Homo sapiens: one gene and its partners. The protein of the gene in region 3 interacts with the protein of the main gene of each other region in a pairwise test. Each region holds a gene or a part of one and is shown on either strand. Other genes may lie near its edges. The genes, in order: FAM210B, SYS1, SLC30A8 and DERL1.

Region 1 (7,681 bases), on a different chromosome or scaffold from region 3:
GGCAGGAGGATTGCTTGAGCCTTGGTGGTTGAGGTTGCAGTGAGCCATGATCATGCCACTGCACTCTAGCCTGGACAACAAAGAAAGACTCTGTCTCAGAAAAAAAAAAAATAGAAGGACACTGTTAAATAGGCAGTAAAAATCACCATGACAACTCAAGGGAGAGAGATTACGAAAAGAAGAAAACAGCTTCATATTTTAATACCTTGAAAGGCACTTCTTGCCTGCTTTTTTAATTATTATTTTTTATTTTACTATTTTATTTTATTTTGAGACTGGGTCTCACTGTCGCCCAGGCTGGAGTGCAGGGGTGTGATCATAGTTCACTGCAATCTCTGCCTCCTGGGCTCAAGCAATCCTTCCACTTCAGCCTCCGGAGTAGCTGTCACTATAGGCGCTGTCACCCCTGAGACAGCAAGAACAACCTTTCCTCTTCCTTTTCCTCCTCAGCCAGCTCAATGCAAAGATGACAAGGATGAAGACCTTTTTTTTTTTTCTTAAGATGGAGTTTCACTCTTGTTGCCCAGGCTGGAGTGCAGTGGCACGATCTCGGCTCACCACAACCTCCGCCTCTTGGGTTCAAGGGGCCTCAACCTCCTCCTCAACCTCCTGCCTCAACCTCCTGAGTAGCTGGGATTACAGGCATGTACCACCACACCCGGCTAATTTTTTGTATTTTTAGTAGAGACTGAGATTCACCATGTTGGCCAGGCGGGCCTCGAACTTCTGACCTCAGGTGATCAGCCTGCCTTGGCCTTCCAAAGTGCTGAGATTACAGGCGTGAGCCACCGCGCCTGGCCTTATATGGCTGCCTTTAATGTCAGATTCTCAAGTTAAGATCATAAAAGTCAGTCCTACATTTCTCTGCTAAAGACACCATTTAGAGTCGGGGTAAATAGACACTCTTGGCCAGGCGCAGTGGCTCATGCCTGTAAGTCCAGCACTTTGGGAGGCCGAGGCGGGCGGATCACCTGAGGCCAGGAGTTTGAGACCAGCCTGGCCAACATGGTGAAACCCCGTCTCTACTAAAAATACAAAAATTAGCCAGGCGTGGTGGTGCACTCCTGAGGTCCCAGCTACTCAGGAGGCTGAGGCAGGAGGATCACTTGAGCTTGGGAGACAGAGGCTGCAGTGAGCTGAGATCACACCACTGCACTCCAGCCTGGGTGACAGAGCAAGATTCCATCTCAAAACAAACAAACAAACAAAAAACTCTCATTTGCTGTACTCTGCAACCTTTATGGAGTGAAATTTTGCCATTTATTCAAATTTACAAATACACATATCTTCTCACTAAGCAATTTCACTTTGAGGAATTTATTACACAGGCATACTTAAACACGGCAAGTGACAGAAATACCCGCTGGTTCATCACAGCATGGTTTATGATCACAAGGACTGGAAAATACCCTAAATACCCTAATGGTCCACCCACAAGGGATTGGTTAAAGCATTACAGCACCCTGGAATACACTGGAATGCTAAGCAGATTTTAAGAATAAGGAAGATTTTTGTGTACATATTCAGAAAACTCTAAAATATAATGGAAGCAAAAAAAGTCCAGGTGAAGAACACTGTGTATACTATGCCCCACTTGGGTAAAAACAGCAATGAAAACCGTTCATAGGAATTTGCCTGCACACATGTAAAATTTTCTAGAAGGATATGCACAAGCAACGGGTAACAGTGTTTGTCTCTAGGGAGAAAAAAATGAGGAGAACTGGTCACTGGGATAGGAAGGAAGCTTGTCATTGTGTAGACTTTTTGTACCTTTAAAAATCTGAACCGTGAGAACACATTATCTATTCATGAAAATGAAGAAATTAAAATAAATATAGTTCATGCATGAGCTGCTGCTCTAGAGAGACAAAGAGAGCTGACACAATAAGAAAAAAACAAAACTGTCACAAGTTCAGGCAGGCAGCAGCTCCAATACATTTTGTTAAAAGCAAAAGTTTCTTCACTTTTAGAAGAAGAAAAAAAGAACCTAAAGTCTATAATTACAGTATTATATTTACTGTCAAATTTAAAGGGAAAAACAAAATTACCTTTTTCTCTTCTCTAATAAGCATATAGCATGAATCACAAACTCAACTGCCCATGAAGCCTGGGCAGGAAACTTAAATGAATGAAGAAGGCCTGGTGACAAGAAAATCACGGGCGCTTTGGGAGGCCGAGGCAGGAGGATCACGAGGTCAGGAGATCGAGACCATCCTGGCTAACATAGTGAAACCCCGTCTCTACTAAAAATACAAAAAATTAGCCAGGCGTGGTGGCGGGCGCCTGTAGTCCCAGCTACTTGGGAGGCTGAGGCAGGAGAATGGCATGAACCCGGGAGGCTGAGGTTGCAGTGAGCTGAGACCGCGCCACTGCACTCCAGCCTGGGCGACAAAGCGAGACTCCATCTCCAAAAAAAAAAAAAAAAGAAAGAAAATCATGGGAACCATGAGGAAGTCGAGATCAGATGCCATCTGGAGGTGGCACTGTCACCGGGTGACAGAGGGGCTTCAGGCAAGGCATCTCTACAACATCCCAGCTAACGTGTGTGCCCTCTCTGTGCACCAGGCACTGAGTGAAGCCCTTTCCAAGAACTGTGTCAAAGAATTATCTCAACAATCTCATGGGGGAAACTATTATTATCTTCATTTTACACATGAAAAGACCAAGGCTCAGAGAAGTTGAGTCACTACTTCCAAATCACACAGCTGGACTTCTAGGGCCAACCTGACAGACAATCTGCACCCTTAAGCACTCTTCCCCAGCTTCTTGCAGACACTTAAATGGAAGGATTCCCATCCAGGGGCACTTTAGGACCTCCCTCCAACAGACCCTGTTACTTTCACAGCTATAACTCCATCTTATGTAATAAATATTTTTTAATGCATATGTGTTTAATATCATTTCTGTGCCTGTGTAAGAGCTTGGTTGAGTTGAATTGCAGTTGACTAATAGAATATTACATCTTTTGTAAAATATATTTCTTTTTCTTTTTCTAGAGAGACAGGGTCTCGCTCTGTCACCCAGGCTGGAGTGCAGTAGCACCATCGTGGCTCCCTGAAACCTGGACCTCCTGAGCTCAAGCAATTCTGCGTCAGCCTCCCGAGTAGTTGGGACTACAGGTGCATGCCACCACACCAGGCTAATTTATTTTTATTTTTGTAGTGACAGGGTTTCGCTATGTTGCTCAGGCTGGTCTTGAACTCCTGAGCTCAAGTAATCCTCCCACCTCAGCCTCCCAACGTGCTTGGATTATAGGCATGAGCCATTCCACCCAGCCAGAACATCTTTATTGAAGTATAATTTACACAGCATAAAATTCATCCATGTTAAGTGTACAGTCCCACGAGTTTTAGTTACACAGCTGTCACCATCCCTACAATCTGGGTTTAGGATCCTTCCCTCACCCCAAGACGTTCCTCCCACTCCTTGGCAGTCAATCTCATTTCCCACTCCCAGCCCTAGGCCACCACGGATCTGTTTTAGGTCTCTGTGATTTTGCCTATTCTGGGCACTTCATGTAGCTGGAATCCTCCAGTGTGTGACTTTTGTGCCTAGATTTTTTCAATTGGCATAAGAGCTTTGAGATTCATTTATGTTGTGCATGTATCAGTAGTCTGTTCCCTTTAATTGTTGCATTGCGTCCCATTGAAGACTTGTGCCACAGTACGTCCCAGTTTATGGGCATTCCTAATTGTTGACTAATATTTATAAGATCTCTACAAACATTGGTGTCTTCACATTTTAGTCTTTGAGTGTCGAGCCTTTGTTTCTCTTGAGAAGCTACCGAGGAGTGGAGTTGCTGGGTTGTATGGTTAGTGTATGTCTAACTTTTCAAGAAACTGCCACACCATCTTTCGCTTTACATTCACGCCAACAATCTATGAGGGTCAGAGGACTTTTTATTAAACATGTACTAATATCAATTCTCATATTTATTTTCTTCTTTGGAGCTAACACGTAAACATATCTATAATTTTTTTTCAGATTTCACCCATTTCTGCAGGGAGAAAAGCTCATAAGCCACGGCCCTACGCCCACCTTTGTGCCCGCAGAATAAGGAAACCCGCCAACTACACACCACAGTTAGAAAGCCCAAGACCCTGAAAAGACCTGCACCCACCCCCAAAGGGGCGGGGCTGGTGGGCGGAGAGGAGGCGGGGCGCGCTCCTTCAGCCCCGCCCACCAGCCCTGGACTCCGGCTCCCGAGGAGCGGAGCTAGCGGGTGAGCCAAGGGGATGTGCACAGGCCTCCTCAGTCCCGCCCAGCGCGCGCGCGCGGCGGCGAAGCCGGCGGGCGGGGCCGGGGAGGGCCCTCGCCGGGTCAGCTCCGCCCACCCTCCCCGGCCTCCGCCCGCCTCCCGGGTCAGCGGCGCGGGTGCTGCGCCTAGCTGCGCACCATGGCCGGGTTGCTGGCGTTGCTGGGTCCGGCAGGCAGGGTGGGCGCCCGGGTCCGGCCTCGCGCCACCTGGCTCCTGGGCGCCACCGCCCCCTGCGCCCCGCCGCCCCTGGCCCTGGCCCTGCTCCCGCCCAGGCTAGACGCCCGGCTGCTCCGCACGGCGCGCGGGGACTGCCGCGGCCACCAGGTAAGCACCCCACCCCGACCCTGATCCCGGGCGGTGTCCAGGTCCCCAGACGTCCGCAGGGCCGCGCCGGGGTCCGGCCGCCTCCGCCAAGGACGCCTTTGCACTTGTAGCTGCCCGGGACCGAGCTCTTCCAGGGTCCCCGAAACCCCAAATCCCTGCAAGCCAAGGAAGCGATCCTCCTAGTTGACAGCCAGAGAAACTGAGGCTCGGGAAGGTGTGGCGCTCTGCCCAAGGTCGCGCAGTCTTCGGCCGAGCCCCGGGTCTGCAGAGCCTCAGCCAGGCTGGGGCGCAGCCGACTGACTTGGTCTGAACTTCCACACGTTGCCTGCGGAGTTGTTGTCCAGGCCTTCTGGCTGGGTCTCGCTGTGTTTTGAACACCTCCCGACGCTCGCTGCTCCTCCCTTTTCTTCTGAGTGGAAGAGCAGGCGTCCTCAGGGAAGCCGCGGGCAAGAAACCCACAGTGCTGTTTGTTATGTTTCATTTCCGTCACTTTCCATTGGTGCTAAGTGAAAACTGGTTTTCCTTCAGAGCAGTCATACCAGCTTTCCTTTCAAGAAATCTATCACTTTCTTCCAAGTGAGTCTTTTTAAATAAAAATAGTAGTAAATGAAGTCTGGCGGTCCAGGAATGGCAAGCCCAGACACGCGGAGCCGGCGTCCAGCCCGGAGCGCATCCGGCCTGGCAGTCTGGAGCCTCTTTGTTTGCCTGGGTGCAGACAGGGCCCCTCCATTCATCGCCCGGTGACCTCAGACCGAGTCCTGAAGGCTTTTGAGCTTGTTTTCTGACCTTTAGAGGGCCAAAAATAGCACCTTCCCAGCAAGAGTTTGGGAGACAACTCCATGAGCTGGTGCAGGCCTCAGCGGAGTGCCGCCGGCCCAGCGAACATCTCCTGACCGTTTCCTAGCTTTTCAGTAAGGAGCGGATGGGGATTGGACCCAGGCTTTCATCATGCCTCCTGCCCAGATCAACTTCCTTCCTTGCCTTCTCCAGTCCGACAGGTGGCACACAGGTCTTGGGGATCCTCTCCAGAGTGGCACCTTCTGCACACACCGTGCCGCCTCCTGATGATTCTTCAGGGCCCAGCCCAGCTGTTCCTTCCTCCGGGAAGCCCTCTCTAACGACCTGTGAGGTCTCGGATGCCTCCACTGGGCCTGCTTCCACCCCATGGCTGTGGGTCTTCTCTGCACTCATCTGGAATGGCCTCTTGTCCTGCCTGTCAGCCACATTGACCTTGTCCCCAGCTCAGGCCCTGGCACTGGAGCGGTGTGTGTGTATACAGTGGCAAAGAGTTGGCCTCAGACTCCCTGGATTCCTCTCTCTACTCACTTGTTGTTGACTTTGATCAAATTCCCTTCTCTCTATCTCAGGCCCCTCATCTGTAAAATGGGACGTTAATAATTCAGACTTCATAGAATATGAATGTAAAATGAGATATGTTCATACCTGGCATCTGGTGTGTCCTAAATTAAGGTTAGAAATGACTATAATTGCAGTAAATATATACAGTCACAAGGCCCCAGGGCCCCGTGAGCTGTCCTTGTTTCTTCTGCACCGTGGTAAAATCGGCAGAAACCCAAGTGGGATCAGAACCTCAAAGGAGATTAGGACAAAAGATAACTCATCTGCCTGAGAAAACGCGTCCCCAGCAGGGCCTGGGAGCAGTGCAGGGAGGGTCTGGGCTTGGCCAGAGCCCAGAACCTCCCCTGTCGTCTGTTCTGGCCGCCCACCCTCGTCGGGAGGTAGGAGTGTGCTGCCCAGCTGGGCTCTCCAAATTTGCCAGGTGTTTAATTAAGAGCCAAAGAGGCCCACCCACGCTGCCTTGGCAGGGGGTCTCTGTAAGAGGGGTAGGGAAAGCCACAGAAGAGACCTGCCTTTTTGTCTTAACATGATTCCATGTCCTGTAAACCGCCTAGCAGCCCCGCCTGCCTGTGCCACTTATTCCTTCCAGGGACGTAGGGGGAGTTCAGGCAGATGACTTGCTCTCCCAGAGCCCCAGTGTCCTTTTGTCTCCGTCAGTTCTGGTTCCAGTGGCACCTTTTCAGGGAGACCTTCCCTGATGGCCTTATTTAACATTCCTCCTACTCCCTGTCTCCCGCCCCATTGGTGTTTCTCTATGGCACTTGTCACAGGTAGCAGCCCTGGTATTTTACTCTTCTGTTTATTGTCCCTGCCTTCCCATAAGACCATAAGCTCATCGAGGGTGGGGTTTTGTCAGTTTTTTCCATTGCTCTGTCCCCTACACTGAGAACAGTGCCTGGCACAGAGGAGACACTCATGAATACACGAGGAGTAACATAGCATGGTTGTTCAGAGCAAAGGCCCTGGACCCAGACTCAGCGAGTTTGGATCCCAGCTCTGACAGTAATCCCTGTGTGATCCTTGGTAAATTACTCAACCTCTCTGGGCTTCTCAGATCCTCTTCTGTTAAGTGGGGTTGACAGTAGTCAAGGTTGTTGTGAGGATTATATGCATTAATATTTCCTTTTTTTAAAATTAGAGATGAGGCCGGGCGCGGTGGCTCACGCCTGTAATCCCAGCACTTTGGGAGGCCAAGGTGGGTGGATCACCTGACGTCAGAAGCTCGAGACCAGCCTGGCTAACATAATGAAGCCCCGTCTCTACTAAAAATACAAATATTAGCCGGGCATAGTGGCACGTGCCTGTAGTCCCAGCTTCTCGGGAGGCTGAGGCAGGAGAATCGCTTGAACCCGGGAGGCGGAGGTTGCAGTGAGCCAAGGTCGTATCACTCCACTCCAGCCTGGACGACAGAGCACGAATCTGTCTCAAAAATATAAAATAATAAAATAAAAGATATGTTGGCCAGCTTGGTCTTGAACTTCTGGCCTCAAGCAATCCTCCTACACCTCAGCTTCCCAAAGTGTTAGGATTACAAGCATGAGTCACCGTGCCCAGCCAATATTTTCAAAGTACTCAGAACAGTGCCTAGTACAGAATATACACAATATAGTGTTTATTATTAATATGATTTCTCAAGTGGAAGAAAACAGGTGTCACTCCAAACACTGCGATCGGCTTGGCAAGGTCCTTGGCTCATTCTTTAAACCTTCCTACCCCCTCTCTATTACAGGTTTTTGTACT
Region 2 (8,704 bases), on a different chromosome or scaffold from region 3:
ATCGATGGCAATTGTCACTAGGGGATCCTAGGAATTGGTGGGGATCATGACACCCTGAAGCATACATGTTCTAGCTAAAGGGGGGCAGTAGCTACTTGCATCTAGGCAAATCTTATCATGCTAGAAGGTTGGCCTGGAATCAGTCAGTCATTCCATTATTCAAGAGAAGCCAGAAATCTGGATTTTTATATAAAATAGCCTGATTTTCAACTAAGTGAAAAAAATGTTTTAAACACCATGTGTGGGCTGACATCTATGTAAGCCAAATAGAACCTATCTGGAAGACAAATTTAGGTCAAAGTCAGCCCACCAGTTTTCAACCTCCGGTGTAAGGACAAGAATAATAATAACATGCAAGGCACTGTTCTAAGTCCTTCTTGTGAATTAACTTATTTAATCCTTACAACTATGAGGTAGGTAATATTACTAGCCCCATTTTACTGATGAGGCAACTGTGGTAGATTAACTTGTCCAAAGTCACTAGACTAGTAGTAAAGCTGAGGTTCAATGCCAAATGAGTCTGCCTCCAGAGCCTGACACCTTGACCACTATGCTAAACTGCCTCTTAAGAGACAGGCAATGATTACGTGTGACCTTAGACATCACTGAGTCCAAACCCTCATGGACAAAAGAGGAGCCTGAGGCCCATGGCAAGTAACTTGGCCAATGGCACACAAACCAAGAACAGAACCCAGTTCTCCTGCCTCTCGGTCGAATCCTTTCTCAGCTCACTCCACATCAGGGAAGTTATCTGAGATGGAAGTTGTCTTGCAGGCAGCACAAACATAGTGACATAAGAGCTTTCCAGGTAAGTCAAAACAGCAATGGAAGGAGGCCCATTATACAGCTGGTCCCAGAACTGGCCTCTGTCACCCACTTTACTCCACCACTCCCCAGAAACAAGTGCCAGCCTGTCTCATGTTCAAACTTAGGAAGTTAGTCCCAGCACTAAGAGCCCAAAAGCTGGATAGCAAAACTGGTGATACTCACCAGGTGAGGGCGTTGAGGATGAAGGACATCATGGAGAGCCGGCCTGGAGGGGTGGAAAAGCCCAGGATCTGAGGGGGAATCACAAATGGAAATATACTGGAGAAGTGACTTGGCAGAGCCCCAGGATCTCAGCAAGCCTCCTAAGGAACAAGCATTCTTCCCAGAGCACAGAAGATAATACCTCCCTACATCTGTACGGCAGCCTATTTCCAATAGGTGCTTTCATAGACATCCATTATGGGATTTCATTTGTTTCTCACAGCAGGTGGAAAGGGATTATTCTCATTTTACAAAGGAGGACGTAAAAACTCAGACAAGTTAAGTTGCCCAAAGTAATAAACAACAAGAGTAAAGTCTAGAACAGCGTTCAGCTGACTATGGCTCCATAGGCCTGGCATCTGCTCCTGTACATAAGGTTTTATTGAAACACAGCCACACCTATTCACTTATATATTTGTCTATAGCAGCCTTCTGTGCTACAATGGCAGAGCTGAATAATTGTGACCTAAAATCCTTACTACTTCACCCTTAAAGGAAAGGTTTGCTGATCCCTAGGCTAGAACTCAGGTTGTGTGCATCATATGGCTCTTCAACAAAGCCTGGCATTCCCACAGCTCTTCCCAGGAGCATAGAGTCTCCTACGAGACTACAACTAGGCATATGGTGGGTGTGCAACCTCCACTATCCAACACAATACTATCAAATGCCAAACATCTGCACCACACTTTCAGCTGACAAAGAAAGGTCTTTGACATACATAATCTCATATTATCCCTAAAAAAACCTCACAAAGCCATTCTTCTTCTTTTAATTCTTATCACTTTTTGGATAATAACTTGCCCAAGGGCTAACACAGAGAACAAGCAGCAGGAGCAAGGACTCCATCCCAGGTCTCCTGGCTTTAAGAACTGTGCTCGGCCGGGCGCGGTGGCTCACGCCTGTAATCCCAGCACTTTGGGAGGCCGAGGCAGGCGGATCACGAGGTCAGGAGATCGAGACCATCCCGGCTAAAACGGTGAAACCCCGTCTCTACTAAAAATACAAAAAATTAGCCGGGCGTAGTGGCGGGCGCCTGTAGTCCCAGCTACTTGGGAGGCTGAGGCAGGAGAATGGCGTGAACCCGGGAGGCGGAGCTTGCAGTGAGCCGAGATCCTGCCACTGCACTCCAGCCTGGGCGACAGAGGGAGACTCCGTCTCAAAAAAAAAAAAAAAAAAAAAAAAGAACTGTGCTCATCACCACGCCACAGCTGCCTCTTAGATGTAACAACTTATAGGCCTCCTTTACACTTTACAAAGTACCTTCTTATTCCTAAACCCCTCTGGGCCTTGTAACATTTTGTTGAGGGCAACATGGTAGGAGCATCCGGCCCACTTTTCAGAAAAGGCTCAGAAAGGGGAAGCAACTTGCCCAAGGTCCCACAGCTAGTTTTATATGTTTAGGCCTAGACTGAACCCTTGCTTTTCTGAACCCAAAGCACATGCTCTTTATATTGCAGTCCACGACCTCTCTGCAACTAGTCTCATGGTTTTGAAGACAGGAAAACAAGTTCACAGAGGTGACATTTGCCCCAGGTCACACAGCTAGTAAGTGGATCTTAAACGGACGCCTGTCTGACCCCAAAGTCCAGGCAGTTTCCACTGTACCCGCACGAATGCTCTTTTATCCACCCCTCTCTCCGATGTGGCACCTGAGAACCTAGCTCAGAGAAATCAAGTCACTTTCCCAGAGTATCAGAAAGGAAATGTATCAGAGTTGCCTGGAACACAGACGTGTTTATTGTATTAACATCCAGGCCCTTTTCTTTGTACTAATCAGCCTCTGCTGTCATTCCATTTTATGGATGAGGCAGCTGAGGCTCAGAAAGGTGAAATCCCTTTCCCAGGGCTACAAAGAAAGAAGGTGACCCAGCCACGTCTACAGCACAGTAGTGATGGACCACAAAGCCTACTCGGGGAGGCCGAGACCCCACCCGCCCCAGTCCGGGGACCCTACCTCGGCGTCGAACATCTGGTCCAGCGAGGGGCTGCTTCGCACTAGCCCGTCCACCAGCGCCAGCCACAGGCCCAGCGAGCCGTAATACACGGTCTGCATGAGGACGATCTGCGACAGGATCAGCAGCGGGTCCCACACGTAGCTGCGGAACTGACCCGCCATGCCCTGCAGGGACACGAGCCGGGCCTCAGCCAGCGGCCTGTCTCCATGGCAACGTCGCCCCGCCCGGGAGGAGGGACTGGAACCAAGGGGTGAGCCCATTCCAAGAGTCAGGGGGAAGGCGGGGCAGACAGACCCATTCTCAGAGTGAGGGGAAATCCAGCCCATTCCGCCTGCGCGGCCCCCGCCCGTACACGAGCTCCTCTGGGGTCTACTCACCAGTGACAGACTCGACGATCGAAGTGTCTGAGCGTGGCCCGGCCTCACCGGCGGGCTCCCAAAACAGCGCTGACAGACAGGACCATGGAGGAGAGGCGCTGCCGGCCTAGAGAGGCAAAGCTCCAGCGACCACGGCGGCAGGAGCGGCTGCGTAGGAAAGAAACGTTTCCGGGGAAAGCAGCGGAGGGGCGGGGCTGAGGTTGCGCAGGCGTAGTGGGTGCAACCTCTGCCTGAACCTCCTGAACCAGGTACAAGCAGCCGGATAGCGAACTGAGCACATGCGCAGAAGGAAGAGTGAAGGCAAACGGAAGAGAGGAACGAAGGCCGCAGAGCTTGCGCGCCCTCTAGAGGGGAATTCTTTTTTTAAAGGAAGGCGGCTAGGGGAGAGGCAAGTGGGGTGGCTTAGGACGCGGTAATGATGTTTGGGAATTAACGAGGTGATAAACTGTGTCGTTATTTTCAGCCTAAATTCTCAATGTTTTCTCCTAGTTAGAGTCTGATAACTTGAAGTGGACCTGCAAGCTCCTCCACGTAGGAGTTTGCCAATGTTCCCGCTGTACAGATAGTTAAGCTAAGGGCCAGAGAAGGAAAGCAACATACTGTTTCAACGACACAGTTAGTAGCAAAGTAAGTATTAAAATTCAAGTGTTGGTCGGGCGCGGTGGCTCACGCCTGTAATCCCAGCACTTTGGGAGGCTGAGGTGGGCGGATTACCTGAGGTCGGTGTTTCGAGACCAGCCTGACCAACATGGAGAAACCCCGTCTCTGCTAAAAATACAAAATTAGCGGGGCGTGGTGGCGCACGCCTGTAGTCCTAGCTACTCGGGAGGCTGAGCCAGGAGAATTGCTTGAACCCGGGAGGCAGAGGTTGCAGTGAGCCGAGATCACGCCATTGCACTCCAGCCTGGGCAACAAGAGCAAAACTCCGTCTCTAAATAAATAAATAAATAAATAAATAAATAAATAAAATTCAAGTGTTTCCTCAACACTACAACATTGATTTCGCACCTACTCGGTGGCAGGAAGGCTAGAACATGTATATATAAGACAGCCCCTGCCCTGAGACACAGATGAACTATATTAGAAGGCAGAGTAGTGGGTGTTTTAAAATGTGGGTGTCCAGTGGAAAAAGGCACAGGTTCTGAAGTCGCACATAGGAGTAAATCCTGACCCTCTCTGCTGCCATGACTGTTTTATCTATCTTCCAAATCCGAATAGTGGACAGTCAGTAAATATTTGCTGAATGAGTTAAGAACAGAAAAAGCAAGAGCAAATCGATAACTCACTTATTCCTACTCCAGCAGACGAAAACCCATCAACTTCATTGATCCTAGGTTCCCCCTCTCTGAAGTGGAAAGACGGGAAGTAAGTTGTTCCAGGAAAAGAATTTGGGTTTTAGGGCCAGCTATGCCACCCAGTGTGACCAGCAAGCCACTTCCTTCTTTAAACCTCAGCTTCCCTGTTTATGAAATGAGGAGTTGGACATGATTAACGTTTTCCACCATTTAATCTACCTTCCAGTAATTATTTTCTCATTAAAAAAAAAACTTAGGCTGGGCACAGTGGCTCATGCCTGTAATCCCAGCACTTTGGGAGGCTGAGGCGGGCAGATCACAAGGTCAGGAGTTCAAGACCATCCTGGCTAACATGGTGAAACCCCATCTCTATTAAAAATACAGAAAATTAGCCGGGCCTGGTGGCAGGCGCATGTAGTCCCAGCTACTCGGGAGGCTGAGACAGGAGAATGGCGTGAACCTGGGAGGCGAAGCTTGCAGTGAGCCGAGATTGCGCCACTGCAGTCCAGCCTGGGCGACAGAGCGAGACTCCGTCTCAAAAAAAAAAAAAAAAAAACGTATCAAAGAGCCATGTAACTGCCAATCAGAATTTCTGAACAGCTTGTGGTAGCCGTGTTATCACCTTGAGCTGATACAATTCCAGACAAAAGTAAAGAAACTTGAGACTTTATTGAGAGTGTGCGATTGTCCTTATCATTTGGAAATACCCTGAACAGTTCCCCTGGACTCCAGTTGGGGAGTTATTAAGGCCCAAAGATTTCTTAGGTGCTTTCCAGCTCAACCATTCTTTTAGGCACCTCAATTCAGTCCAACAAATATGTATTCAAATTCCTCTAGTTCACTGATTATGCACATGATCTAGTGTTTCTGAGAAAACATCTGTTTCTTAAGTGCCTACATGATCTTGTTTAATTCTCACAATCTGAAAATATAGCTATTGTCCCCTTTTTATAGGGGAGGAAACTAGGCTTGGGGGGAGGTGGTGTGACTCTCTAGGTCAGAGAGCTCACAGGGAGCAGAGCTGAGATTCAAATTCAGGACAACTGACTCCAAACATCAAGATGACTTTTAGTTTAGTTTTGGTTTGGTTTAGTTTGGTTCTTTGAAACAGGGTCTCAATCTGTCACCCATGCTGGTTTGCAGTGGCGCAATCATGGCTCACTGCACCCTCAAACTCCCAGGCCCAAGCCTCGGCCTCCCGAATAGCTGAGACCACAGGCATGTGCCACCACACCTGGCTTTTTTTGAAACGGAGTCTTGCTCTGTCGCTCAGGCTGGGGTGCAGTGGCATGATCTTGGCTCACTGCAACCTCCGCCTCCCGGGTTCGAGCGATTCTCATGCCTCAGCCTCCTGAGTAGCTGGGATTACAGGTGTGTGCCACCATGCCCAGCTAATTTTTGTATTTTTAGTAGAGATGGGATTTCACCATTGTGGCCAGGCTGGTCTGGACTCCTGACCTCAAGTGATCTGCCCGCCTCAGCCTCCCAAAGTGCTGGGATTATAGGCATGAGTCACCATGCCTGGCCCGCACTTGGCTTTTTTGATTTTTCATTTAATTTTATTTTTTTGTAGAGACAGGGTATCCCTATGTTGTCCAGGCTGGTCCTGAACCCTGGGCTCAAGCAATCCTCCCACCTTGGCCTCCCAAAGTGTTAGGATTACAGGCATAAGCCGCTGTGTCCAGCCAAGATGCCATTTTAGAATAAAAGAACAGGAAAGAAGGGAGGAAGGGAGGGAGGGAGAGGGAAATAAAGGAAGGGAGATAGTAAAATAGGTGGTGGAGTAGCAGGAAGTGGAAAAGGGGCAGTGAATCTCTCTGCTCAGTTAGCCCTGGGGTGAGGGATTAGGGAGAAATGGGAGGAAAGGCTTAGAAAAGGGCTGCAGAGGTTGACAATACCCAGGGCAGCTGTCTTCCTTGCAGATGCTGGAATGCGTGGCTCTTCCTGGGCTCTGCTCCCTTCACGTCACAGCTGGGCCCACTCCACCCCATCTCCTCCCAATAGGAAAGGCCCTGCCTACCCATTCTGCTGAACTAGAAAACACAGGTAGCTTTTGATATTAGGGCTGGCTGGAATGTCTGATGTCATCCCTGGAGTCCGGAGCTCACCTCTGGGAAAACCCCACTGGGCGTGCAAGCTAACCTCCTGCCCTTTCCTTTCCCCTTTGGGAGTTCAGTTCTTGGATTCCCGCCTTGCCAAGCTTCGGAAATGTACATCATCCTCCGTCTTAATTTGGATCCAAGAAGGAAACCAAGAGCTGGGGAAAATCATGGCAACCCCTTTGTTTAGCTTCATTGGCCCATTTTCAAATTTGACCACAAGCAGTCTGCTTCAGACCACAGAGTCTGAACTAGAGCCCCACTGGCTTGCTATGTGACCTTGGGCGAGTCCCCTGGTGGGTCCCAGTATCCCAAACTATCAAATGAAAGAGGGACATTGGACTCCGACTTGCAGATGCTGTCATGGCCCTGTGCCATCTGAATCACCTGAGGAACATACTGGATATTCAAATTTCCAGTCCTTGTTTGCAAACCTAAGTCCAGTTCAAGTCTCCCAAAGCAGAGTGTGGAAATCTGTGTATTTAGAGAGCTCCCCAAGTGATTCAGAGGTGCACCCACATTTGATAACTACAGCACAAGATGATCTGTAGTTGACCCTAAACCGGCTCCTTCATCCAACAGAAAACTGCTCTGTGACCTTGGCGAGTCACATTCCGGCTTCAGGGTTTTCTTCCATCTGTAATATGAGGGGATTGGATTTGAATAGCTAGCTGGTCTACGAGGGTTCTTCCTACGCTGCCAAGTCTGTGGTTCCAAACTTATGAATGAAATGTTAAACTTCAGGTCAGAGGCAGAGTGACGAAAAGCCACAAGCTGGGACAAACTGTCCTTTGGGTGGAGGGGAGGGGAGTGCCTCTGGTCACTTGGTCTCTTTCGTCACTTTCACACTGGGGCCCCACTGCATGCATGTAAGGACAATCGCTAAGGTCACCTTCTGGATCCACCCCCATAAATCCCTTGGGAAATGTTCTCCCATAGGCCCATAGGCTTGAGAGCCCTGCTTAGATTCGAATCCTGGCTCTCTGGCTGTCTTGCTGTCCTGCTGGGTGACCTTGGGAAAGTTACTTCATGTCTCTGAGTCTCAGTTGGTTTCCTCTTCTATAAAGTGGAGTTCAGAATAGTACCCATGTTATGGGCTGTCCTGAGGGTCAAATGTGTGCTTAGTCCACTGCCTGATATGCAGTGGGCACTATGTTAACCTCAGCAATGTTAATATGATTGTTATTATTTCTTCCTCTGGAATGTGGGAACGGAAATGCCTGATCTCAGATTTATGGCAAGGATCTAACAATGTATCAGACAAGTCAAGCCCGGTGGCTGGCCCATAGTAAGAGCACATTAAATGTGATACCTTCTCTTCCTCCTCTCACCCCTACTGTCGTGTTCTCTAGATCCCTCCCTCTCTCCCTTCCTCCCCCTCTCCCTTCCTCCCCCGCTAGGCTGCCCTACTGCCCTGCTCACATGTTTCCTTTCAGGGAATATTTGATGAAGACACTTCAGTAGAAACACGTGTCTCAGGGACACGTTATGCAACTCTGTGCTCACAGGTTTTTGGAAACCCCACGTGGGAGGCTTGGAGTTGGCTGCCTGTCCTCTACATCGGTGACCATCCTGGGCTCTGGCCAGTGAGTTCCTCTCTTAGAAGGAAAACTGGAGAGAGAGCTCATTAGCTGCCTGGTTTCTCCTCCAGACCGAAAACCCCTTTGTTACCCAGGTTGCTTTAAGTGCTGTTTGTGTCTGTGTTTGGGGAGGAATATTTGCTGAGCATCTACTGTATGACAGGCACTTATATAATTTAATCCTTATTTAATTTCTAAAACAAGCCTGTGAGTTGAGAACTATTAATAGCCCCACTGAACACATGCAGATCCTGAGGCTCAGAGAAGGGACATTTACCCAGAGCCATGCTGCCAGTGAGTGGTAGAGCTGAACTCCAACCCAGGCCAGTTTGACTCCACACACTATTCCTTCTCAGTGTGTAACAAAAA
Region 3 (7,729 bases):
AGATAAGAGAGTCTTGATCAGAATAAATCCATCTTCATTACTAGAAGAACCATTCAGTAGTACTTGAAATGGGAGAACTACTGACTCCCATTGACATTATCTTGGAATATTAAAGTATGTCAGAGAGTGACATCAGCAAGATGGCTGACTAGAGATGCTGGGGCTAGTCCCCCCGGTAAGAAAGGGCCAAGGCAATAAATAACCAGAGGAGATTTGACTGGAGCATCAAAGGGAAAGTGTGGGAGTGCAACCTAGGTGTCCAACAATAGATGAATGGATCAAGAAAATGCAGTGTATATACACAATGGAATACTATTCAGCTATGAAAAAGAATGAAATCCTGTTATTTGCAGAAACATGGATGGAACTGGAGGACATTATGCTAAGTAAAATCAGCCAGGAAATGAAAGTTAAACACCACATGTTTTGGCTCATATGTGGGAGCTAAAAACAAATTGTTCTCATAGAAGTGAAAAGTAGAACAGATAGCAGAGGGAGGGAAGGGGAAGAGTAGGATAGGGAGAGAGTTGTTAAAGGATGCAAAATTACAATGAGATAGCAGGAATAAGCTCTAGTGTTCTATAGCACTACAGAATGACAAGAATATAGTTAACAATAATATATAGTTCCAAATAGCTAGAAGGAAGATATTGAACATTCCCAATACAACGAAATAATAAATGTATGAGATGATGAATTTGTCAGTTACCCTCATCTGATCACTATGAATTATCTGTATGGCAACAGCACTGCATGTCCCATACATATGTACAATTATCATGTCAATTTAAAACTGTTTAAAATTTAAAAATAAGGTTTATTGGAGACCTGAGGTACTTGATTATATTTACAAGGTGATTTATCATTGCTACATTGGCCATTTGTCGTTAACAAATGATATTATTTTCTATCTTACATTCCAGGAAAACAGGTATTATGAAGGACTTGCCTAAAACCCTTATTAGACTAACCCAGCAGTTCTCAAACTTTAGTGGCATCAGAATCACGTGGAGGGTTTATTGAAACACAGATATCTGAGCCCACTCCCACAATTCTTGAGTCAGTATATCTTATTGGGGAGTAGGAGGAGCAAGAATTTGAATTTCTAACAAGATGCTGGTGCTGCTGGTCCCAGGACAACACTTCAGGAACCACTGGACTAATCTTTTAGTACCACTGAAGGGATTCCCACATGCTGGCCCTGGGAATGGCACCTGTAAAATTCAGTGAGAGCTAGAAGTTTGCATCATATCAAACATCCAGATGATTGAAATATCCAGACATTAGCTGATTTTTTTTTTTTTTTTTTTTGTCCAGCACATTTTGACATAAGGTAGATCTGGTCTCAGAGTGCAGTTGCCTTCAGTGACAGCTCACACTTCGTTAGTGTTCACTGCTAAGTATACATTTAAAGGTTTGTTCTTGGTGGTCACTATAATTGTTGAAAGATAATAGTGTTGACAACAGTGAAATGGATAACGGAGTCAAATGTCACAGAGTAATAGTGAATTTTCTGTCTCTAAACATGAGAATATTTGGTTTGTCAAGCCACAGAAGCATCCATTTTCTTTCCTGAGTGCCGAATGCTGAGCTGCAGCTGTTGTTGCTATTATGGAAGTTATTGACTTAAAGAAAGATAAAAGACAAGTTGGTGTACAATTTGAAATGACTTATATTCCGCTTTTCTTTGTGTGTCTCGCTATAGCTCTTCCCTGGTGATTATCTTTCTTATTTTACTTCAGGAAAAGTGCAGAGACTGGACTACGTCAGCTAGTTATAGAAACTGGCAGATAACTCCTTTCTGGAAGACACTTAATTTTTAAATTAGGTTTTCAAACTATGTTAGTATAGTACTTAGTAAAATTTAAAAATAATACAGAAAAGTATGAAATAATTTTAAAAAGTCTCCTTATAATTCCGTCTTTGACTTCTCAGTCCTATTCTTCAGGGATAATACCTGTTAATAAGTTGACATTTATCTTTCCAAAGATATTTGTGCATTTGCATATATATATATACATACATACATGTATATGTATATGTGTATGTGATGTAAGTGTGTACCTTTTTTTATAAAAATGGGATTACATATTGATTCACATTTTTTCTCTGCACCTGGCATTTTTCATTTGGAGATCTTTTATATTAGCACATACATAGATATACCCCATTCTTCTTCACAGCTGTAATTACTCCACAGCATGGAAGTACTTGCTTGTGATTGACATTATAAACAATGATGTAATTACTATAAACAATGATGTAATTACCACCCTTGTACATATATATTTTTAGCACTTGTATATCTGTGGAATAATTCCTAGAAGTGATATTGCTGTTTCAAAACTTACATGCTTTATTAGTATGTTTTTTCACTGCTCATAAAGACATACCTGAGACTGGGTAATTATAAAGAACAAGAGGTTTAATGGACTCACCGTTTCACATGGCTGAGGAGGCCTCACAATCATGGCAGAAGGCAAAGGAGGAGCAAAGTCACTCCTTACATAGCAGCAGGCAAGAGAGCTTTTTCAGGAGAACTCCCATTTGTAAAACCATCAGATCTGTGAGACTTATTCACTACCAGGAGAACGGTATGGGGGAACTGCCCCCATGATTCAATTATCTTCACCTGGCCCCCACCCTTGACACGTGGGGATCATTACAATTAAAAGTGAGATTTGGGTGAGATTTGGGTGGGGACACAGCCAAACTATATCACATGCATTTCAAAATTTGATAGATATTACCATTTCTACCAAAGATACAGTATCAATTTCTTTCCCCTCAACAGCATATGAAAGTGCCCCTTTCCTCACATCATCACAACCACTGAGTATTATCAAACTAACTGTTCATTCTTTTCTACTCTAATAGGTGAAATATTATATCTTATTGATTTCAAATGCAATTATTTAATTATGAATGATCAGTGGTTTTTCAAATACATTTATAAGTCTGGGAAGTTATTTATTAAACACTAATTTAGATATTTTCCTGGATGCATTAATATTTTTTCAGACTCCCCCCCAAGTAAAAGAAAGTTCTAGGATGTGATGGAGCATTGAGTCCAGTGGGGCCATGCCTCTTGCCTGGCAACACTATTTGTTATAATAAAATAAGTCATGGTGGACCTATGTTCTCTATAATAGTAATGAGATGAAGGAGACAAGTGAAAAAAGGGTAGTGGGATCATGACTTAATTTCAAAGGGCCTAGATGAATGATAGCAAGTCTTCAAATGGTCAACAGAACTTCCCCAAAGAGATGACACACATTAGGCATAACAGACAGTGTTTTGATTGCAATTCCTAGACTCTAGTATTTGCGTAACACTTTATACTCAGAGCACAGACATTGGGATCTGATATCCCTGGTTCTGCCACTTCTCTGTGTGGCCTTAGCAATGTTCCTTAATCTAACTGACCTCAATTTCCTCTTCTCTAGTTAAATAAGAATTGTAACCTTAATAACTAGCTTCTAAAGTTTTTAGGACTATTAAATGAGATAATTGCTATATATAAAGTACTTTGCACAAACTTTACACATAGTGGGCCCTCAATAAAAGTTTGTTATTATTATTATGACAATTTTACCCATGACTTTATTCACATTGTATGGCTAATTTGAGACAAGAACTCCTTTCATCTGCTTCTAGGAGCCTAGGTCTTTTGCCACTCATAGAGTAAAATAGCATGATAACCAGCTCTTTGTTACTTCCCCAAACAATATGAGGTAGGATCAAAAACTCAGCTCATGCTGTAGGGAATTTTGAGTTAACTCCAAGGAGGAAATCCCCCATGAGCAAGGTTCTTAGCCCATTTTTTGCCGAGTGTTCCATTATTGGAATGCTAAGCATGTGAGAGTTATTTATATCCTGCTCAAGGTCATTGCCAAGGTCTGATTGCAAAAATTCAAAAAATTGCAACCCCAGGCATAAATGGGTTAAATTTTTCAAAAGGAGGGTTAAGGGTTCCCCATTTCTTTAAGTAGATGTTTCTCAGTTCTAGCTGTTCATTATAATCCTCTGGGAAGCTTTTAAACAATGCTTATGCTCAGGCCTCCCATACCCAGTGTTATTAGGCTGTTCTCACATTGCTATAAAGAAATACCTGAGACTGGATAATTTATAAAGAAAATAAGGTTAATTGGCTCATGGTTCTGCAGGCTGTACAGGAAGCATGGTGGCATTTGCTTCTGGGGAGGCCTCAAGAAGCTTCCAATAGCGGCAAAAGGCAAAGGGGGAGAAGGCACGTCACATGATGGGAATGGAGCAAGGGCAAGGGAGGTGCTACACACTTTTAAATGACCAAATCTTGCAAGAACTCACTCATCATCGCAAAGACAGCACCAAGCCATGAGGGATCTGGCACCATGACCCAAACACCTCCCACCAGGCCCCATTTCCAGCATTAGGGATTACAATTCAACATGAGACACTGGCAAGGATAAATATGCAAACTATATCACCCAGAGATTCTGATTTAATTGTCTGGGGTTGGGGCTGGCTTTGGTATTTTTAAAAACATGTAGTCAGACTAGAGAACCACTGCAAAGCAGAGCTGCTCAGTGGCTCATGAATGTTGGTGCAGTGGTTCTCAATCTTGGCTGCCTGATAGAATCACCAAATGAGCATTGATGTTGGGCCTTATCCACAGAGATTCTGATTTAATTGGTCTTGGGTGTAACTTAGTCATCAGGATTTCTAAAATCTCCTCTGGTAATACTAATGTGCATCCAAGGTTGAAAACCACTCTGAAAGACTCTAGATTTTGGAGCTTCATCCATAGAAATTTCCTTTTAGGTCTGGAATGGAGTCGTGGTACATTTATTTTTAATAAACACCCCAGGTGTTTGTGTTGTTTGTACATAACTGAAGTAGAGGCTAAAAAAGGGCTGTACTTAGACATCTCTTCTACAGCATCCTCCAATGTAGCTAAAATAATAGAAAACTTACAAACCGAATAAGATGGTATTATACAATGTTAGGATCCTCTATTAGCACAGTTCACTAAATGACCTGTTGAGTAACTAATCTTTGTACAACATTGCTGTTCATAATGATTAGATATTTTCTGAATTGCTCCTCAAAGATCTCTGTGATCTATGTGTTGTTCTTAACACCCTTATTTTACTACAAATGTGCTGAGGGTCAGAGAAGTTCTGGGATTTGGGTAAATTCACAATAGTTGTCGTCAGGATGCTAACCCATGATTATTTGATACCAAATTTCATGTTATTTCATTTTACTTTCCAGAGTGTATATAAAGATAGTTGGAAAAGGCACAGTTAGTTTAATAGTATACCATAAAAACTAAGGATAATTACCATTGTTGGTTATTGCATAGTAAATTCTGCAAGTATTCTGAGTGGGAAATTTTGATTGATGGTAAACCTTGAAGTAGTCAGGTAAATCTTATTTGTAAACATTTGAAGTAAGAAACCAGCAAAGGGATGAACACATTGAAATTTTGGTGAGGACTTTGCAGCTTGTTTAGGTAATTCAATGAGCTGTATCTAGTTGAATAACTACAGCCTCCATCTCTTCCCTTTTGTCAGGTGTGCCAAAGAGCCTGAATTACAGTGGTGTGAAAGAGCTTATTTTAGCAGTCGACGGGGTGCTGTCTGTGCACAGCCTGCACATCTGGTCTCTAACAATGAATCAAGTAATTCTCTCAGCTCATGTTGCTACAGGTCAGTGAGTTTTGTAAACACCCTGGAAAAAATTCAGTCCTTGTCCTGTAAAGTCAGTAATTTCCCTTCTTTTTGTAGAGCTGCCCTTATTGTCTGTTGCTTGTCAAAACATTATAAAGTGTTTTCTATTACCAAGGGCCTTTGAAACCAGCCCACTTATTGATGTTGTCATAGCAACAATGATACCCACGACATTCTTGGGGCTGACTGCAGAGGGCTGAGGACAGACAGAACAAAGGACTAAAATGCACCCGCCACTTCAAGGCCTTGGACTCTGAATATTCAACTTCATCTGTTTGGCTTGGTGCCCTATCAGTCAAATAATAGGAATGAATTAAAAACTTAATCTTAATTGAGTATCTCCTATGTATAAGATGTTTTTCCTGGCACTGAAAATAGGAAGATGAAAGAGACACCAGCCCCACTCTTAAATTTCTAACAAGCTAATGGATGTGCTAATAGGAATTATGGTGGGGTCCCACACTGTATGATTAGAAATTCTGTAGCCATGTGAGAAAATTCTTATAATACTAGGTTTATACTAAAATTACTTTTTCAAGAAGTTAATTTTGTCTCTGATATGTCCTAGAGCTGGGAGGATAGGCAGTGGGAGGGCATTTACTGCCTCAAGAGAAAGCTCAGGCCAAGGATAACACATTAGGCTGCTAAAAAATGACTCAAGGAGTTACTTAGGGGCAGGGGACAGGAACACTAGTGACAGTCATTTGAAAACTGTGCTTTCTCAGACATCGTCATCTTCTCGAAGGGGCTTAGGTCTGACTTGAGGGAATTTACAGCATTCACTATGCCAATATTTCACTGCAAATGGAAGAATCTAGTAAACACTCAGGTTGCTATGGAGGAGACTTTACAGCCTGCTGATAGCATTTGGGACAGGAAAAAAATGGCAGTGAGGGTTGCTGCTCTAAGAAAGGTCTGTGGGGAGCTCTAAACGCTTCCTGGTTCCTGTCACTATCCTTGATATAAATTCTGATTACATACAAAGCCTGCAACCCAGAGATCCCTGGGAGCTGGTGAGCAGGGCTGTATAAGAAATAATAGTTCTGTCTTGGCTTTTTCCAGGGCTTGTCTCCCCTTCCATAGTAAGCTCCTAGGAATGCCAGACTCCAGAGATAACAGTGGACAGAAAGAGTTCCCATAGCGACAGGGCACTTTGCTGCACTAGAGTTTCCCCTGCCTTGTCTGTGTGAATGTAGCTGATTATCAGAGCAAACGTGGCTTCCTCTGAGTGCCCTGCCTCTGCCCCACCCCAGCAGGTCAAAGACAAAGTACTTGAAGTTGGAGTCAGAGCAGTCGCCCATGCGTGTGCAATCAGTGCTAATCTCCCTGTGCTTCTTTATCAACAGCAGCCAGCCGGGACAGCCAAGTGGTTCGGAGAGAAATTGCTAAAGCCCTTAGCAAAAGCTTTACGATGCACTCACTCACCATTCAGATGGAATCTCCAGTTGACCAGGACCCCGACTGCCTTTTCTGTGAAGACCCCTGTGACTAGCTCAGTCACACCGTCAGTTTCCCAAATTTGACAGGCCACCTTCAAACATGCTGCTATGCAGTTTCTGCATCATAGAAAATAAGGAACCAAAGGAAGAAATTCATGTCATGGTGCAATGCACATTTTATCTATTTATTTAGTTCCATTCACCATGAAGGAAGAGGCACTGAGATCCATCAATCAATTGGATTATATACTGATCAGTAGCTGTGTTCAATTGCAGGAATGTGTATATAGATTATTCCTGAGTGGAGCCGAAGTAACAGCTGTTTGTAACTATCGGCAATACCAAATTCATCTCCCTTCCAATAATGCATCTTGAGAACACATAGGTAAATTTGAACTCAGGAAAGTCTTACTAGAAATCAGTGGAAGGGACAAATAGTCACAAAATTTTACCAAAACATTAGAAACAAAAAATAAGGAGAGCCAAGTCAGGAATAAAAGTGACTCTGTATGCTAACGCCACATTAGAACTTGGTTCTCTCACCAAGCTGTAATGTGATTTTTTTTTCTACTCTGA
Region 4 (7,729 bases), 5.9 Mb from region 3:
AACAACAGCTGATCAGTGTCTTGTATTTCCTCTAAGAAATACATGTTACTATTACTCATTCTTCTTTATCCTACTCTATACGGCACTGTTTTATACCTTGGTTCATTCCCTACAAAATATTTTAATTGGCTTCATAGTATTCCTTGTATGTGAATGTCTAAACTTTTGTTTAAACTGTTACAATGCCACAATGAATATTCTTGTATATCCTCTTTATATGTGCATATACAGAATAAGTTCCTGTCAATAAATCTGCTAGAGCAACAGACATAACCATTTATTTTGGTAGATACTGCCAAATGCCTACAAAAATGTTTGCTCAATTTATACTTCCTCCTAAAAAGTAGATGAATCCTGTCTTCTCTCCATACTCTCACCATTTCATGTATTATATATTCACCAATCTGAAAACTAATTTTTATTTGCATTATGAGAAGTCAAGCACCTTTTCACGTTTTAAAAACCTGAGCATTTCCTTTATTCATTTGTTTTTCTGGATTTACATTTTTTTTTTCCCCCCCGAGATAGGATCTTGCTCTGATGCCCAGGCTGGAGTGCAGTGGCATGATCCTAGCTCACTACAACCTCCACCTCCTGGACTCAGGTGATTCTCCCACCTCAGCCTCCCAAGTAGCTGGGACTACCAGCATGCACCACCACACCTGGCTAATTTTTATATTTTTTGTAGATACAGGGTCTCCTGATGTTGCCCAGGCTGGTCTCAAATTCCTGAGCTCAAGCAATCCACCTGTCCTGGCCTCCCAAAGTGCTGGGATTACAGGCATGAGCCATCGCACCTGGCTGCATTTCCTCATACATTATGAAATTTCTCTTTCTCATCATTGCAAGCATTTTCTGATGTCATTAGACTTTCATGGTGTTTTTGCCATATTTTGACATACAAAAGTTTAATTAAATGTAGGCATATGTATCCATGATGTGTCATGTTTAGAAAGTCTTTTCGCTCCAAGAATGTAAGTGTTCATGGTTTTATTTTAGCACTTTCAAGGTGCATCCAAGGAATGAGGAAGAGATCCAACTGTTTTTCTAAATAGTCACCCAGTTTTCCCAACCCCATTTACAGAGTAACCCACATTTTTTCCAATTATTTGAAAAACTACTTTCATTGAACGTTTATACTCTAGTCTCTTTTACATGTAGGTCTATTTTAACACCATTCTGTTTGGAATTGGTTCCTATGCCAATATCAAGTTATTTTAATTTCTATTTTCTTTTTTTTTTTTTTTTTTGAGACAAGGTCTCAGTCTGTTGCTCAGGCTGGAGCGCAGTGTTTTGACCACAGCTCACTGTAACCTCAAATTTCTGGGTTCAAGCAATTCTCCACTCAGCCTCCCAAGTGGCTAGGACTACAGGCATGTACCATCACACCTGGTAATTTTGTTTGTTTGTTTTTTGAGACGGGCTCTTCCTATGTTGTCCAGACTGCTCTCAAACTACCAGCCTCAAATGATGCTCCCACCTCAGCCTCCCAAAGTGCTGAAATTATAGGCATGAGCCACTGGGCCTAGCCTAGTTTCTATTCCTTTTATAACATATTTTAATAGCTGGTAAAGTTAAACAGCTAAATAATATCTCCCCCTTTTTTTCTTCAACAATTGTCACAATTTTCTTGGTTAGTCTCAATATTTTATTTTTCTAAATGAATTAGAACCATTCTTTTATTATATCCATGTGATATTGATATAATTCCCAGCCAAGAAGTTTTTCATAGCTTTTAGAGTTGTCTATAGAGCTATCTCTTTCTACCTTTTTATACTTAACCACAAAAGCTGAGTATCTTACTGCCTACAATATTGAAAATTGAGCTTCGGCCGGGAGTAGTGGCTCATGCCTGTAATCCCAGCACTTTGGGAGGCCGAGGTGGGCAGATCACCTGAGGTCGGGAGTTCGAGACCAGGCTGACCAAGGTGGAGAAACCTTGTCTCTACTAAAAACACAAAATTAGCCGGGCGTGGTGGCACATGCCTGTAATCCCAGCTACTCGGGAGGCTGAGGCAGGAGAATCGCTTGAATCCAGGAGGCAGAGGTTGCAGTGAGCCGAGATCACAACACTGCACTCCAGCCTGGGCAACAAGAGCGAAACTATGTCTTAACAAAAAAGAAAATTGAGCTTCTTGGGCTTTCCAAGCATACAACCCTAGCTGTAAATAAACTTTTGTATCTTATTTCATTCTTGTCTAATTCACTGGCTGGCACCCCCACCAGAACAATGCTAAATAGTGATTGAAGCAGATGGCCTTCCTAAACTTTTGGAAATGGCAGCAAAATGCTGGCTTTTGGTGTGAGAGATATGTGTCTATCTCATTGCACACTAGCATGTACCAAGCACAAAAGACATGGCCCCTGAATTCCTCAGAGTAGTGGGGAAGGCTGTCAAAGGAAGAAAGGGTTGGCACAAGGGAGGGGACATGTGGACTTGTTACAAAGGCCCCAAGAATTGCAAGAGCACAATAACTGAATGGGTACTGCTAACAATTCAAGTGTGGCTGGAATGGAGGACGTCAGTCACGGGGACTGGCCACATACAGACTGGCCAGTTCCATTCTCCAAGTACAGGAATGTAACCCTCAGAGCTTAATTCCTTGTAGAGGGAAATGCAATGTGCATACCAAAAAAGTGACTTTCCAAGAAACGTGTATTAAACCAGAAAAATAAAATAGTTTAACATTTGGTTTGATTCATTCACAACTTTATCACAGAAACAGGATAGTTTAGTGGAAAGGGAACTGGAGATGACTTGAGAAGACCTGGGTTTAAGTTTTTGCTTATAAGTCACCACTTCCGAGCCTCAATTTCCATAGTTAATTTTTTTAAAGAAATCAATAAATTAATGTGCTACTCAGCTTATTTACACGCACTGATTCAGGAGACGGATTTCATAGATGAGGAAACAGGATGAGAAAAGGTTAAGTATCAGCCAGTAAGTGGTGAAGCTAGAATTTTATCCCAGACAGTCTGACTCCAGAGTTTGTGATACTAAGCCCCTATTTTTACAATCCCTCTCACAAATGGCGTCAGTATTATGAGGTACAATTACAATTAGTGTAAGTGTTCACTACTACAGACACTTGTGTAATCCTGAAATAGACTCAGAGTAAACCTACTAATTAATTCTCTGTGCTTAAGAAAAGGACTGGGAGTAAAGACCAGAAGCAAACCCTCTAGGTAGCCCTGGACCCTTGGAAAAGTATGGACGTCAAATTGGCTTCATCATCTACCCAATGACATTATCCTATGACTTCTGCCTTCCTTATCTTACAGGATTTGTAAAAGGTTGGAATTAAGAAAGTGAATTAAAAAGATACTATGCAAAAAGAATTAATATGTGTGGGTGTGTTAATTGTATTATCACAATCTTTTCGGAAACACCCGCTAACCAGTTTTTATAAATTCATATTTCAACTACCCCCATATTCCTATAAGTTACTCAAGGCCTGGTTTTGGAAAAGAAACCTTGTTTTTGTCTGACTACATTTTCTCTAATGCTGATGACATAAGACTATTTTTAGTCACTGTTTGCACCTGTTCTTTGGAAATCAGTGTCTGTCAAAATATCTCACTTCTTTTCCCTGTTCATTAAGCCTACCCTTGAGTTATACTTGCTTTCATTGATCTAAAAGACTTAATATTATTTTTGTGTTACTTTAAAATTATAATCTGAAAACACCAGAAGACAGCTTATCTCTTTAGAAGGACACAGTGTAACATATTTCGGAAATCCCCATTGTAAGTATCCAACTAAATCCCATTTTTTCCTCGACCTGATATGTAAACAGTAAGGAGAAGGAACTGGCTTTACGTTCAGTGCCAGGAGTGAAGAGGCCCATTTTCAACCCTGGAAAGCCTAAGAGGCAGCCAACTGCAGCACAAAGAGCCACGACTTGCAGACAGAGGACTGCCTGCCTCACACTTACTGAGAGGACTCGTGGGGGAGTATCTCATTTTAAGTCCACAGCAACCTCAAGGCCAGGCCCATAATGATCCCAGTTTTTTCAGGAGGAAAGCTGGGCCCTAATTAGAGTTCCTCACTTAACAAGGACATGTAGCCCATGTGCTCACTGCTATATACACCCTTAAAGAAGACATAAGACATTGTTCCTCAGTTATTAGTCCAACAACTTCAGAGTGTAGGTTGCAGCCATCCTTTAGCTAAAATCTTCTAAACAATCTGCTACTGAAATAATTTGCCATCCAGAATCTAGTGTTTTTTTTTTTAAAGTATGAAAAGTGAGGATTTGTCTGAAATAATAAGGATCACTTGATTCGGACTTAAGTATATATCAGTCACCAAGCAAGAAAGATGATGAGCACCTGTGTGACAAATGCTAGTTTAGTAAACTGTGGCCTTTTTTGCTGGGTGGGGAGACACAACGGGTAGGCAAGAAAAGGCCCCTTCCATTCATTTAAACAAATGAAAGGCACTTAATCTTTAAAAAGAGCAATTAGAAGCCATCAAATCTACTCCTAGATATATAGGCAACAGAAATTACTATTTCTCCTCACCAAGAAGTACATATGTTCACCAAGACATGTATTAGAATGTTCATAGCAGCACCATTCATAATAGCCAAACTGGAAACTGCCCAAAAGGTCCATTAATAGCTGAATGAGTAAATAAATTGTGGTATGGTCCCATAATGAGCAACCTATAACCACATGCAACAATATGGGTGACTCTCATAATGTTGATAAAAGCAGGTAGACACAAAAGAGAACATACTTCATAATTCCACCTATAAAAAGCATAAAAACTGGCAACAACAATACATGGTATTAAAAATCAAGAGCATAGTCACCCTTAGAGAGGACAGTGACCAGAAGGAAGCAGGAGAAAGCTTTTAGAGATTCTGTTTCTTGATCTGAATGCTGGCTGTATACATGTTTTGAATTTTTAAAAACTCAAGCTATAAACTTATTATACATACACTTTCCTGCTTGTATATTGTAACTCAATAAAAAGTTTTTTAAAAAGCCACAATCTAATGGGCAACATTATTACAGAACACAGCAGAACTGTTCAACATGGACAGGACTACTAAGGAAAGATCTTAAATTACGTACCAGAACACTTGCCACTAGAGTTCTATAGCCAAACCTTGATGGATATAGAACTTCTATGCTCAGCCTATAGTCCAAGTTCATTCTCCTCCCTGCTATGTTGAAACGTCTCTCTTCCCCAATACACCCTTAAATCAGTCTCCTAAGGTTGCTGTCATCAGGTTAAATGTGATATATAAGCAAAAGCTTGGCAAATATAAGCACAAGGCTGAGTCACAGAATTGGTTGGTACCATTTCTTATTCCTGGAAATAAATTAGAGAAATCAAGAGTTCACATCTTCCCATTTCAAGTCAGGATGCTTTTAAGAAGACAAAGCAGAATAATCATCCAGCAGTTACATTTCAATTGCAATTACTAATTAAAATTAGAATCTTACTGTCCAGGAGAGAAGGAAATAAGGCATAAAGTATTGGCTGATAAATAAAAATTGGCAACTATTTTTTTTCCCATACCAACCACGTAGGAGGCAACTATTTTTGAATAGCTTATTTATCAGGCTACTTATTGGGTATTACAAACATTTTTCTATGTGTTCTACATACTAGAGGCAAGAAGTAGATAACATATTTCCTCAATTTGAAGGTACTCGTTCCTGTGTTTCTGAAATTAGAGTGTCTTACAATCAATACACTCGTTGAATGTAATTTCTACTCCCCTGTCCCCCAAAAAAGTTGCATTAAATTGATGGTGCATCGTATAATCAATGGAGTCTTAGAACAAAGTTAATATGCTATGATATTATCCTCAGATCCTAAAGAAATTGAGGCTCAGACAGGATAAATAACTTGCCTAAGGGTACACAACTAGCAGGGGACTGAGCCAGGCCTTGAGACCATGATTCAACTACTTGAAATCTAACAGCCTTTCTACTCGAATAGAAAAGGAAAAACAATTTGCTATGATTGATTTGGAAGAAATCACCTTCAAAAATGTTTTGCTACATACTTATTTTTTTCGTAGATATTATGCAAAGGAGTTAAACAAAACAGCTTAGAACTATCCTTGACTCAACGAAATAGAAACTGAAACTGAAGCTGTCTACAAAATGGGGGTAACACTTATCTCAGGATGACTGTCAGAGTTCAGTGACATGACCTCAGGGAAGTTGTAACAGGGTGATGTTATTTTGTCCAAAGAAATGAAGAAATATAGCCATGCAGGCGGCCCTGGGAGACATAACCTTAGAAAACACAAAGGCAGCAGGAATTGCCACCTCTTGTGTAGTTAATCAACGATTAATATGAAGACATTTCATTATTGTGAACTATTTGATTGATGAACATAAATCTGAGGGACTCAGAATAGGGAGAAATCGTAGACAACAGTATAATGAGTCTTAACACACACCTGTTTCAACCTATCCAAACTAAAGAAATAACATTATAAACCTCAGCGTTCTAAACCAACAAGCTACACACAAGAATCTAGAGCTGAGGAGGAAAAATAACTTGTCACTTCCAACATGAGCACACAATTCTAAATCAATCACTCCCCCATTTTTGTAAGTTGTGAAAGATTCAGCTTCTAAGGAAAAAAGGAACTTTCTAGCAGAACTCTGCTAAAGCACACCGCACACTGTCCGTGCACAGCAGCCTCTCAAATGCAGTTTTTCCTTGACTGCTTCATTTGCAAATGAGTTCCTCCAGGTGGGTCTGAAAGTTACATGTGTCCAAAATAGGCAAGAATCAGAGTAACAGGAAGAAAAGACAAGGTACAGCTGTTGGTCTTTTCACACCTGGGCAGTACACTGTCCTGCCTCCTGCTGGCAGCTGAGAAGAAATAATACAGGGAAGATGACAAAATTGTGGAAGATGTGACAAGAACGATTACTCTTTTTAATCAGTTCACCACTTTTAACCTTATACACCCGCAGCCTGTTAGGCTTATTTACATTGCTTCTTTACAATGTGCTTATTTACATCGTGTAGTCACTAGTGTCACTACACAAGTGAGGATTTTGCTAACAGGGACAACAAGCCGGTTTTGACCAGGTCCTTCTCACACATTAATATGCCACCATTGCTCCCCATGACCACACATTACCCAACAAGCCACCAGGGACAAAGTACACAACATTCTCTCAGCCAACAAATATTTAGTAAAGTAATAAACACAGAACAGTATGCAATTCCAGCTGCACTCCAGAGTCATGTTTTTATATCCAACTGCTCCCTTGGCCTCGCCACATGGATGCCTGAAAAGCATCTCAAGACTTAGCACAGCCAAAACCTAACTCTTCATCCATACCAGCCCCCACTCCCAACCCAGGTATCCCTGACCATTCCCCATCTCAGTCAAGGGCTCCGCCATCCACTCAGCTGCTCCTGTGAAAACAGTAGTATCTTTCAGTCCTGCTCGCTTCACCCATTCACTCTTTATATCCATTCGGCTGTAATCTCGTCCCCTCTGCCAAGTCTATGCCCTTTTCTCTATCTTCACAGCCACACTGATCCAAACCACCATCTCTCTGGCCTCCTAACTGGATTCATCTCTCTGATCTCATCACCTAGCCCTTCCTCCTTCAACCCCCTCCATACACACACAAAGTCCACTCCACAGAATAGTCGGGGCAATCTGTCAGTCCTTTGTTCACAAGGCTCCAAAGACTTCATAGTGCCCTCAAAATAAAGTTCAAACCTCTTAACATG

Evidence for each region.
Region 1: the proteins of SLC30A8 (region 3) and FAM210B interact in binary tests that used the Homo sapiens proteins (3 or more experiments, as listed by UniProt).
Region 2: the proteins of SLC30A8 (region 3) and SYS1 interact in binary tests that used the Homo sapiens proteins (3 or more experiments, as listed by UniProt).
Region 4: the proteins of SLC30A8 (region 3) and DERL1 interact in binary tests that used the Homo sapiens proteins (3 or more experiments, as listed by UniProt).

What each region holds. Positions count from the first base shown.
Region 1 is NC_000020.11:56,354,610-56,362,290, forward strand, and holds the start of FAM210B (protein FAM210B, mitochondrial), read left to right. Parts: upstream 1-4,364; 5' UTR 4,365-4,396; coding exon 4,397-4,582; intron 4,583-7,681. UniProt on the Homo sapiens protein: Plays a role in erythroid differentiation. Involved in cell proliferation and tumor cell growth suppression. Involved in the metabolic reprogramming of cancer cells in a PDK4-dependent manner.
Region 2 is NC_000020.11:45,357,973-45,366,676, reverse strand, and holds the start of SYS1 (protein SYS1 homolog), read right to left. Parts: upstream 3,522-8,704; 5' UTR 3,362-3,521; exon of another isoform or gene 3,309-3,361; intron 3,149-3,308; 5' UTR 3,146-3,148; coding exon 2,984-3,145; intron 1,059-2,983; coding exon 991-1,058; intron 1-990. UniProt on the Homo sapiens protein: Involved in protein trafficking. May serve as a receptor for ARFRP1.
Region 3 is NC_000008.11:117,165,476-117,173,204, forward strand, and holds part of SLC30A8 (proton-coupled zinc antiporter SLC30A8), read left to right. Parts: intron 1-5,558; coding exon 5,559-5,693; intron 5,694-7,060; coding exon 7,061-7,206; 3' UTR 7,207-7,729. UniProt on the Homo sapiens protein: Proton-coupled zinc ion antiporter mediating the entry of zinc into the lumen of pancreatic beta cell secretory granules, thereby regulating insulin secretion.
Region 4 is NC_000008.11:123,031,632-123,039,360, forward strand, and holds part of DERL1 (derlin-1), read right to left. Parts: intron 1-7,729. UniProt on the Homo sapiens protein: Functional component of endoplasmic reticulum-associated degradation (ERAD) for misfolded lumenal proteins. Forms homotetramers which encircle a large channel traversing the endoplasmic reticulum (ER) membrane.